Homo sapiens: one gene and its partners. The protein of the gene in region 1 interacts with the protein of each later gene in a pairwise test. Each region holds a gene or a part of one and is shown in the gene's direction. Other genes may lie near its edges.

Region 1 (3,653 bases):
TGTGCCTGGCCACCAGTGACAGATTATTATTCAAACATTGATGAGAGTAAAACACTGCAAATTTACCGAATGCAGATTTATAACCGTAATAAATGTTGAACTGAAGATTAAAAAGTCCAATGGGGGGTATAATATAGAACAGTTCATTAATGAAATATTACAATTTTTATTTTTTCCTGTTTTCTTGGACATAAAAGTTGTCTAGTATTGTTTAAACTAACCATACCTCATCTATTCAAGACACTCTAATTTTTTTTTTGTTAGTAAGATGACCTCCTTAAAAGAAGATGTGCGGCGCAGTGCCATGCTGTGTATTCTCACAGTCCCTGCTGCAATGACCAGTCATGACCTTATGAAGTTTGTTGCCCCATTTAACGAAGTAATTGAACAAATGAAAATTATCAGAGACTCTACTCCCAACCAATATATGGTGCTGATAAAGTTTCGTGCACAGGTAAAAGTTATTAAATTTATTAAAAATCTCTTTGCCACAGAAACTGTGGTATTCAAACTGTATGATAGCTGTGTGTGATTTACAACATTTTGCACTTAAGATTCTTGAGATGTCTTCTAAGATATAATTGTAATTCTAGATGTATTTCTAAATTCATTAGCAGAAATACAATTATAACGTATACACTTTTTTTTTTTTCGGTAGAGATGAGATCTTGCTGTGTTTTCCAGGCTACTCTTGGCCTCAAGCAATCCTCCTGCCTTGGCCTCCCAAAGTGCTAGGATTACAGATGCTCTGAGCCACTGCACCTGGCCTCATGCCCATGATTTTTTATAGATCAGATTGAGTATGAAGTTTAGGGTTTTGCAAGGAGGCAGAGGTTGCAGAAAGCTGACATCACACCACTGCACTCCAGCCTGGGTGGCAAGAGTGAGACTCCGTCTCAAAAAAAAAAAAAAAAAAAATCTAGTGTGTTTTTTTGTTTGTTTCTTTTTGAGACGAATTCTCGCTCTGTCGCCCAGGCTGGAGTGCAGTGGTGTGGTATCGGCTCACTGCAACCTCCGCCTCCCGGGTTCAAGCGATTTTCCTGCCTCAACCTCCTGAGTAGCTGGGACTACAGGCATGCACCACCATGCCTGGCTAATTTTTGTATTTTTAGTGCAGACAGAGTTTCACTATGTTGGCCAGGCTGGTCTCGAACTCCTGACCTTGTGATCCACCCGCCTCAGTCTCCCAAAGTGCTAGGATTACAGGCGTGAGCCATCATGCCCGGCCTGTTTGTTTTTTTAAACAAGCGGTAACTATTCCAGAAAAGCGGTGGTTCCCAGACTTTTTGAAGTTAACACCATCTTATTATTTTTCCATTACCCCCACTTCTTTCATTTTTTTTTTTTTTTTTTTTGAGACGGAGTTTCACTCTTGTTGCCCAGGCTGGAGTGCAATGGCACGATCTCAGCTCACAGCAACCTCCACCTCCTGGGTTCAAGCCATTCTGCCTCAGCCTCCGGAGTAGCTGGGATTATAGGCATGCACCACCATGCCTGGCTAATTTTGTATTTTCAGTAGAGGCGGAGTTTCTCCATGTTGGTCAGGCTGGTCTCAAACTCTGGACCTCAGGTGATCTGCCCGCCCCAGCCTCCCAAAGTGCTGGGATTACAGGCGTGAGCGACTGCACCCGGCCTCATTCTCTTTTTAGTGGGGGAAGAGTGTACCTGTTCTGTGATCTCCAGAGAGAAGCTTTAGTGTGGAGTTCTGTCTGCAAGAGAGTACACAGTTATTATGTTTTCTGTTTACAAAGTACCCCATCATTTAGGGAGACATTTAAAAGGTTTCAATTATCCTTTGGATTTAAAGTTTACAAGTTGACATTAAGAACAGAAAAGCACTTGAATAGCTCCTTTCACTGTCCATCAGAAAGCCTTCCAAGGGTGCCAAGGAGCTTTGCAAACCATGGGAAAATCGTGCCTTAAGCCATTTCAGTCTGGTAGCACATGTAATAATAAGGATAATGATGATAATATCCAACGTTTATCGATGGCTTCTGTATCACTCACTGTGCTAAGTGTTCAATACACTTTGTCTCATTTAATCCTCACTACAATCCCTTGCGGAAACTGTGTTGTTATCTTTGTTTTACAGATGAGGAGGGTGACTGCAGAGGGAGATACATGGTTTGCCCAAGGTTACATAGCTAGACATAAATGACAAGCAAGAGTGTGGCACCCTCACTTTTAATTCCAGGGACGCGTTCCTCTTCTAGTAGGAGTGGGATGAAGGTGTGGGGAAGGGAGGCGGTTGTTTGTGAGACATTCTATGACAGCAGTATTGTTACAGTTTCTACTTAACAACTAGGGCAATAAGCAAGTAACAAAGGAAAAGACCCAGAAATAGATTGGGAAAAAAATGTTGAAGAGCACTCAGGCTTTTGAAATAGTCTGAAGTCGTATAAATCCACCACAGTCACCTGTTTAATAAACCCACACAGTTCCCTATAACAAGTACTGCCCTTCATAATGTGCAGGTAGTACTGTGGATATTTACTGTGAATGAATTTTCCTTGTACATCTGCACTATCCTTCCCCTTGTGTCTTTTGATCAAGTGAAGGTTGCTCAAGTTGACATGTTTTTCTGAGACTGCGAAACAGGTTGCTGCATGCTCTTCCCCATGGGGCTAGAACCCTTTATCTTGGTATCATGAGTTGTATTATTTATTGCTAACTCTGGGTCTTAGGGGCTAATCCCTATCATCCTAACAGGGATTTTCTAATACCTAATAATACCCTCTTGGTGTAAGACTGGAAGTTAAACTAATATCGGCTGTAGTGAGAATAATAGGCTCAGTAGCTACCAACTCTGAAGCACTTACTAGAGACCGGACCCTGTGCCAAGTGCTTTCCATGCATTGTCTCCTTGAATCCTCTCAACGATGCCATGTTGGCCAGGTGCAGTGCCTCATGCCTTTAATCCCAGCACTTTGGGAGAGACCAAGGTGGGCGGAACACTTGAGGGCAGTGGTTTGAGACCAGCCTGGCCAACATGGTAAAAGCTTATGTCTACTAAAAATATAAAACTTAGCTGGATGTGGTGGCGCACGCCTGTAATCTCAGCCACTTGAAAGGCTGAGGCAGGAGAAACTATTGAACCTGGGATGTGGAGGTTGCAGTGAGTCAAGATCACACCACTGTACTCCAGCCTGGGCAACAGAGCGAGACTCTGTCTCAAAAAAAAAAATGCCATGTATTTTACAGTTGAGGAAACAGGCACAGATAAGTCACTTGCCTGCAGCCAAACAGCTAGTAGGTGTCAGAGTTAGGGTTCAAACCTAGGCAGCCTGACTCCATAGCCTGGGCACCTAACTATGTTTTTATTCTTTTCCTCACCACAGATTTTTAAATAAGGACTTATAAGCCTTCTCTTTATCTTTGGTAATTTTTGAATTTCTGTTGGCCTTAGCTTTAGCTGAAAGAGTTGTGAGGCCAGGTGTGGTGGCTCATGTCTGTAATCCCAACACCTTGGGAGGCCAAGACAGGAGTATTGCTTAAGGCCAGGGGTTCAAGACCAGCCTGGGCAACATGGCAAGATCCTGTTTCTTAAAAATTTTTTTTAAAAGATCAAAAAAAAAGGGGGGGTGTGCTTACCAATTTGTAGTGTGACCCTTAGGAAACTTGGTCTTTGGGTAGAGAATTTACAGTTCTTCAGG
Region 2 (2,804 bases), on another chromosome or scaffold:
CTCTCTTTCATGAAAGAAGTCTAGCCATACCGAGACCATAATGCTAGGAAGTCTATGTGTAGGCCCCCTGGTCAACAGCTACAGCTGAGCTCCCAGCCATCAGCTAGCATCAGCTGCCAACCATGTAAGTGAGGCCTCTTGGACATCCAGTCAAGCCTTCAGATGACTGTGGACCCTGCTAACACCCAACTGGTACCACAAATGAGACCTCAAGCAAGAACTGCCCAGCTGAGGCCTTCCCAAATTCCTGGCCAACAAAATCATCAGGCTTTTTAACTACAAACAGTTTTATTTTTTATTTAATAAAAAAGTTTTTATTTAACTTGATTGTTTTATTAAAAGGGAAAAGTAATTTTTTAGTATCTGTTAATATATAATAAAAATAAAGGTATAAGCCTGGGCTTGGTGGCTCATTTCTGTAATCCCAGCACTTTGGGAGGTGTTGGGAGGATCACTTGAGCCCAGGAGTTCGAGACCAGCCTGGGAAACATGCCAAAACCCCATCTCTACAAAAAATTAGCCAGGAATGGTGGCACATGCCTGTAGTCCCAGCTACTCGGGAGGCTGAGTGGGAGGATCACTTGGGCCCGGGAGGCGGAGGTTGCAGTGAGCCAGGATAGCACCACTGCACTCCAGCCTGGGTAACAGAGCGAGACCCTGTCTCATAAATAAATAAATACATAAAGGTGTAAATATATGGATTCTAGAGTCAATGAGCAAAGGTATTGTTGTTACTAATAGGTGATTTTGGCATGAAGAAAAACTGGCCATAAAATACAGTTGAAGATTTGGCTGCATTTTTGCCTTACGATTACATACCTTAATAATTACAACTCAATTGAGGGGTCCATATATATTCTTTCTCATTTTCTGGCAGTAAATCATATTCATCATATACTTCCCAATTTTGCACACACAAAAAATGAAAATAGCCCCCAAAAGAAAGGCAGGATAATGCGATCTATCCTCAAAAGACCCCGTGCTGTCATTTCTCAACAAAGGCGCAGAGAGAAATCAAGGTATGGAATCTAATGAATGTCCGTGAAGGAGGTACTTTTGAATGCTTTAAAGAAAGTCTAAATAAAGTTGCGTTTTCTTTTCTTTTTTTTTTTTTTTGAGACAGAGTTTCACTTTTGTTTCCCAGGCTGGAGTGCAATGGCGCAATTTCGGCTCATTGCAACCTCTACCTCAAGCAATTCTCCTGCCTCAGCCTCCCAAGTAGCTGGGATTACAGGCGCCCACCTGTATTTTTAGTAGAGACGGGGTTTCATCATGTTGGCCAGGCTGGTCTCCAAAGCCTGACCTCAGGCGATCCACCCGCCTCAGCCTCCCAAAGTGCTGAGATTACAGGTGTGAGCCACCGCACCCAGCCGAAATTGTGTTTTCTAAAGCTATTTACATATAAGCTGCCGCTCCTTAGGAAAATTTGGTCCTGTGGTTTATATTTTGGCATGAAACAGCATTGGGCTGTATTCCAGAATCCTGCTTGAAGATTTCTTTTGAAGAAATCAGAAATTTTCTTTGCATTTTTTTTATTTTTTTGAGACAGGTTCTCAGTCTGTCACCTAGGCTGGAGTAGAGTGGTGCCATTATAGCTCACTGCAGACTTGAATTCCTGGACTCAAGCAATTCTCCTGCCTCAGCCTCCCAAGTAGCTAGGACTACAGGCAGGCGCCATTCCTCTCAGCTAATGTTTTTATTTTTTATACATATGGGGTCTCGTTGTGTTGCCCAGGCTGGTATTGAACTCCTGGCCTCAAGCAATCTTCCCTCTTCGGCCTCCTAAAATGCTGGGGTTACAGGTGTGAGCCACTTCACTCACTTTAGAGATTTTCACTTTATGAATTGATAAATACAGCATTGCATCACTTAATAGGGATACATTCTGAGAAATGCATCATGAGGCAGTGTCATGATCGTGCAAGCATCACAGAGTGCTGATACAAACCGAGATGGTACAGCCTACTAAACACCTAGGCTATATGGTAGAGCCTGTTGCTCCTAGGCTACAAATCTGTACTGCATGTTACTGTGCTGGATACTATAGGCAATTGTAACACAATGGTAATTATTTGTATATGTAAACCTATCTAAACACAGAAAAGGTACAGTAAAAATGTGGTACTATAATCTTTTTTTTTTTTTGAGACAGAGTCTCACTCTGTCGCCCAGGCTGGTGTGCAGTGGTGTGATCTCGGCTCATTGCAACCTCCGCCTCCTGGGTTCAAGTGATTCTCCTGCCTCAGCCTCATGAGTAGCTGGGACTACAGGTGCACACCACCAAACCCGGCTAATTTTTGTATTTTTAGTAGAGACGGGGTTTCACCATGTTGGCCAGGATGGTCTCAATCTCCTGACCTCGTGATCCACCCGCCTCGGCCTCTCAAAGTGCTGGGATTACAGGTGTGAGCCACCATGCCTGGCTGGTACTATAATCTTATGAGACCACCATTATATATGCAGTCCATCATGGACCAAAATGTCATGTGGTGCATGAGTATTTTTCATCTAACTTATATATTGCTCAATGAAGTTTGGGCAACTCTAAGGAGCAAACATGTTTATAGAATCTAAGTCAACTTGACCTAAACATATACGACAAAATAGGAGTGATTTTACAAATTCATATTTTGTAGACCTAACTGCAAGGTCATAAGGCATATGCAAAATGAGTTCATCAGTTCAGAGGACTAACAGGACTCCACAGAGCATACCCAGGAAATGTTTTTACTTAGAAGCAAAGGATGTGGCTCAGCAAAAGAAAGGGAAGGTAAGCATTAGGGCTCAGAATCATCTAGCTGCAC
Region 3 (4,301 bases), on another chromosome or scaffold:
AGTCAACTAATTAGCATACAAAAAAACACCAATTTGCTGATTCCAAGGATTTTAGGAATTGCATGCCAGGACAAAGACCAAATATATACTTCACATTATCACAGTTATCTTGCAAGGCAAAGGGACTTGGCAGTTGGAGAAATTATCCTGGATGATTTGAATGGGCCCAATGTCATCACAGGGGGCCTCAAGAATAGAAGAATCAGAGGGATCACTACTGAAGAAATCAGAGTGATGTGATGTGACGAAGACTCAACTCACCGTTACTGATTCTGGAGATGGAGGAAGGGTCCGCAAGCCAAGGAATGTAGGCAACCTCTAGAAGCTGGGAAAGGCAAGTGAACAGATTCTCCCCTGGAGCCTTGGGAAGGAATACAGCCCTGCTGACACCTTGATCTTAGCCCAGCAGTCTCATTTCTTTTGACCTCCAGAGCTGGAAGATAATAAATTTGTGTTAAGGCAGTAAGTTTGTGGTAATTTATTAATAGCAAGAGAAAACGAATATAGCTGCTAGTATGTAAAAGGTGGAAATTTTCACATAAAACTCTAGCCATACCAAAGATGAGTAGCAGCTGCCCCCTTTTAATAAAGGATGTGTTTCCAATTTCACTGCAGTCCTCACCCCTCCCTTTTGTCTACCCCAGCCTCCTATGTCCATTTACATGAACTACCCAGTCTAAGTATTAAGTTTTGTAATCGTATACTGAACTGCAGTGTCTCCCAAACAGTAATCCTAATTTCAGCAGCTAAAATAGAAGCAAGCAAATCCAGCCTTCTTAAAATGATTAATCCTATCAATAATAACAATCTTTTCATTTGTATAGTGTGGTCTAGGTCAAGTTACTTAATTTATATAAGCCTAAATGTCCTTCTCTGCACAAGGTGGGGCAAGTTACAGTACATACCCGCTACAGTCGTTTTGAAGACAAAATGAGACACAGCATGAAAAGTGCATCCACCAGACCCACCTGGTACCCAGTAAGGCCTAGGTAATAAACAACGGCGGAAATCAGTGTACTTCTGCCTCACCTGCCACTAGACATTTGGGTTGTTTCTAATCTTTGGGAAGTAAACGCATTGCTCAACGTATTGCTTTTTCTTTTATGTGACTACTGCCTGAAGTCACTTTCCTAGGAAGAATGGATCGATTAGAGAGGCGGGGCAATACCTTTTACCTGCTGGCAGGTGAAATTTCGCCTCCTGGCGGCGTCACCTAAAGTCCTCTCCCTCCAAGGCGCGCCCTCCGCGGCCGGCAGGGGGCGCCGCGGCCGCCTGGGCCCGCCGGATGCTAACAAGCCTGGCGGCCTCGCCCCCTGCCGGAAGTGGCTGCGGCGGGGGCGGGGCCTACGAACTGGGCCGGGCGGCCGTGCGGGAGCCATGGCGGCCTCGGAGGCGGCGGCGGCGGCGGGGTCCGCGGCTCTGGCGGCGGGTGCCCGGGCCGTCCCGGCGGCCACGACAGGAGCCGCCGCCGCCGCCTCGGGCCCGTGGGTGCCCCCGGGACCCCGACTGAGGGGCAGCCGGCCGCGGCCCGCGGGGGCGACGCAGCAGCCCGCTGTCCCCGCGCCGCCGGCGGGGGAGCTGATCCAGCCGTCGGTGAGCGAGCTGTCCCGGGCCGTGCGGACCAACATCCTGTGCACCGTGCGCGGCTGCGGCAAGATCCTGCCCAACAGCCCCGCGCTCAACATGCACCTAGTCAAGAGCCACCGCCTGCAGGTGAGCCCGACGCGGCCGGCGGCCCGGGGGGCCGGGCCTGGCTCCAACAAAGCGCCCGGCGCCGGCGCGCGAAGCCGGCCTCGGGGGGACGAGCGCCCTGCGCGCTGCCGCTGCCGCTGCCCCACCGGCCTCTGCCCTCCCCGGCCGGAGGCGGCTCTCGAACCCTCGCGGCAGGCGCCGCAGGTGCGGCCTCTGGGGGGGAGGAGGAGCTGGGAGCCCCGGGTCCGCCGTACGCGCCAGTTCCCTGGTTCCCTGGCTCCCTGGCCCCGAGTGTCGTGCCGGACGCCGGCCCAGGCTTTTTACACTTTTTTGCCTGTGAGTTCTTAACGGCGTTTTGGCGAGGGACGCATCGTCTCCATTATATTAATGAGAAACAGATTATGCAACCTAGATGATGCGGGGCTTTAAACCGGGGCCTCTGGTTCTAAAGCCCTGTGCTTGCCACGACACCCACAATGCCGCCCTTGGGTCCTGCCCAGTGGACTGTATGTGCCACAATAACTAGAAGAGAGGGTTTTAAATGTTCTCACCACCAAGAGACAATACGTTTGAGGTCGAGGACATGTTAAACACTCTGACTTGATCACTATGCAATGTATATGTCCATCCATGCTGCACACCGCACCCCATCAGTAGGAATAATTACTGTGTGTCGATTATGAATAAAAAAATGTTTTAAAGGAGCGGTAGGTTTGCCTCTAAACACCATCAGTCAGTTTCACGGTGTTGGTAAGATCAGCTCAGGACTGAGACCTAAGGGAAATTGCCCCTGTGGCTCTTCTTTAAGAGGGGGACACAGTAAATACACCATGACAATAGTCTCAACAACCCTCCACGTTATGCAAAACAGGGCAGTCATTTTCAACCTTGGGACACATCTGTGACAAGCTTATTAAAAATCCAGATGTCCAGCCCCACCCCGGACCTGTTAAGTCACAATCTCTCAGTCATTACAATGGCAAGTTTCCTTCCACCACTCTAGGCCAGCAGTGACATAATTCAAAAGCGCAAGTCATTGAAAGCAGTTCTGCGAATATGTAGCTTTTGATGATCAGGAGTAAATTTAGAGTACCCAGAATATTGCATGTTCTGTCTGCCCATAGTCAGGCTTCTGATAAGAATTTCACAGCAGAAAACTCTGAGGTTGTAGTCTCTAGTAGGACAGATGTGTCGCCAATGAAGAGTGATCTGCTCTTACCACCATCTAAACCGGGATGCAACAACGTTCTCAATTGAAGATCAGGGAGCCAGTCAGGAAATGTACCTGAGGTATGCTGAGGAAGACCGTGCAGGTGGGGCCGAATTGTTGGACTGAAAAGCTCTGGGTTTCTTTCAGCACTCAAGTGTAACTCTGGGAATGGCTTTCAACCTGTTGTTTTGTTTTCATACTAAATTTTAACTAAATCCTTTTCTTCCCTATTGTTTTTGTGTTTTTTTGTTTGTTTTTGAGACAGAGTCTCACTCCATCACCCAGGCTGGAGCGCAGTGGCGCCATCTCAGCTCACTGTAACCTCTGCCTCCGGGGTTCAAGCAGTTCTCCTGCCTCAGCCTCCCTAGTAGCTGGGATTACAGGCACCTGCCACCACACCCTGCTAATTTTTTTTTGTATTTTTAGTAAAGACAGGTTGCACCATGATGGCCAGCTTGGTCTCGAACTCCTGACCCTCAGGTGATCCACCCACCTCAGCCTCTTAAAGTGCTGGGATTCCAGGTGTGAGCCACCGCGACCGACCTAAATCCTTTATTTAATCATAACTTAGGTGGATGAACTATTTCTTAATAGTTTCTGTTGTTCCTTTCTGTGGAGTTGTTGTTAGGAGCTCTAGCTCTTTAAAGACCCTGGTAAACATCTGTTGAACATAAAGATACCATTTGCCTTTCAGGACTGGTTAGTATACAGTAGGTTTGTTTCTAATTATGTTGGGTTTTTTTTGTTTTGTTTGAGACAGAGTCTCACTCTGTCGCCCAGGCTGGAGTGCAGTGGCGCCATCTTGGATCACTGCAACCTCTGCCTCCCAGGTTCAAGCGAGTCTCCTGCCTCAGCCTCCCTAGTAGCTGGGATTACAGGTGCATACCACCACGCCCAGCTAATTTTTGTATTTTTAGTAGAGGTGGGGTTTCACCATGTTGGCCAGGCTGGTCTCGAACTCCTGACCTCAAGTGATCCACCCGCCTCAGCCTCCTAAAGGGCTGGGATTACAGGTGTGAGCCACTGTGCCCAGCCAGGGCAAACTTTTTTTTAGCAGGAATTATACCTCACCAGATCCATCATTTTTTTCTTGACAAGCAGACTGACTTTCCTGTCTTGTCCTGGCTTTCTAACCGCAGTGCCCAGTGGCCCCTGAGCAGCTCCTGTCTTGGTGTCTTCCTTTAATGAAGGTTGTCTGTGTGATGCAATAGCCATCTATATGATGGTGCCCAGTATGGAGATCTGTACCTTGTCTGGTTACTACATAGAAGGCTTTTCAGGGTCTTGCTCTGTTAACCCAGGTTGCTGTCAGGCTCTTGAGCTCAAGTGATCCTCCTGCTTTAGCCTCCCCAGTAGCTGAGACTATAGGCTCCTGCCACCATGCCCTGCCTCAAACATT

What was found.
Region 2: the proteins of BRAP (region 1) and ZNF382 interact in a two-hybrid assay, tested with the Homo sapiens proteins (one study listed by BioGRID and IntAct).
Region 3: the proteins of BRAP (region 1) and ATMIN interact in a two-hybrid assay, tested with the Homo sapiens proteins (one study listed by BioGRID and IntAct).

Annotation. Positions count from the first base shown.
Region 1 is NC_000012.12:111,675,952-111,679,604, reverse strand, and holds part of BRAP (BRCA1-associated protein), read left to right. Parts: intron 1-264; coding exon 265-454; intron 455-3,653. UniProt on the Homo sapiens protein: Negatively regulates MAP kinase activation by limiting the formation of Raf/MEK complexes probably by inactivation of the KSR1 scaffold protein.
Region 2 is NC_000019.10:36,629,261-36,632,064, forward strand, and holds part of ZNF382 (zinc finger protein 382), read left to right. Parts: 3' UTR 1-2,804. UniProt on the Homo sapiens protein: Functions as a sequence-specific transcriptional repressor.
Region 3 is NC_000016.10:81,034,494-81,038,794, forward strand, and holds the start of ATMIN (ATM interactor), read left to right. Parts: upstream 1-1,348; 5' UTR 1,349-1,377; coding exon 1,378-1,713; intron 1,714-2,243; exon of another isoform or gene 2,244-4,301. UniProt on the Homo sapiens protein: Transcription factor. Plays a crucial role in cell survival and RAD51 foci formation in response to methylating DNA damage. Involved in regulating the activity of ATM in the absence of DNA damage. May play a role in stabilizing ATM.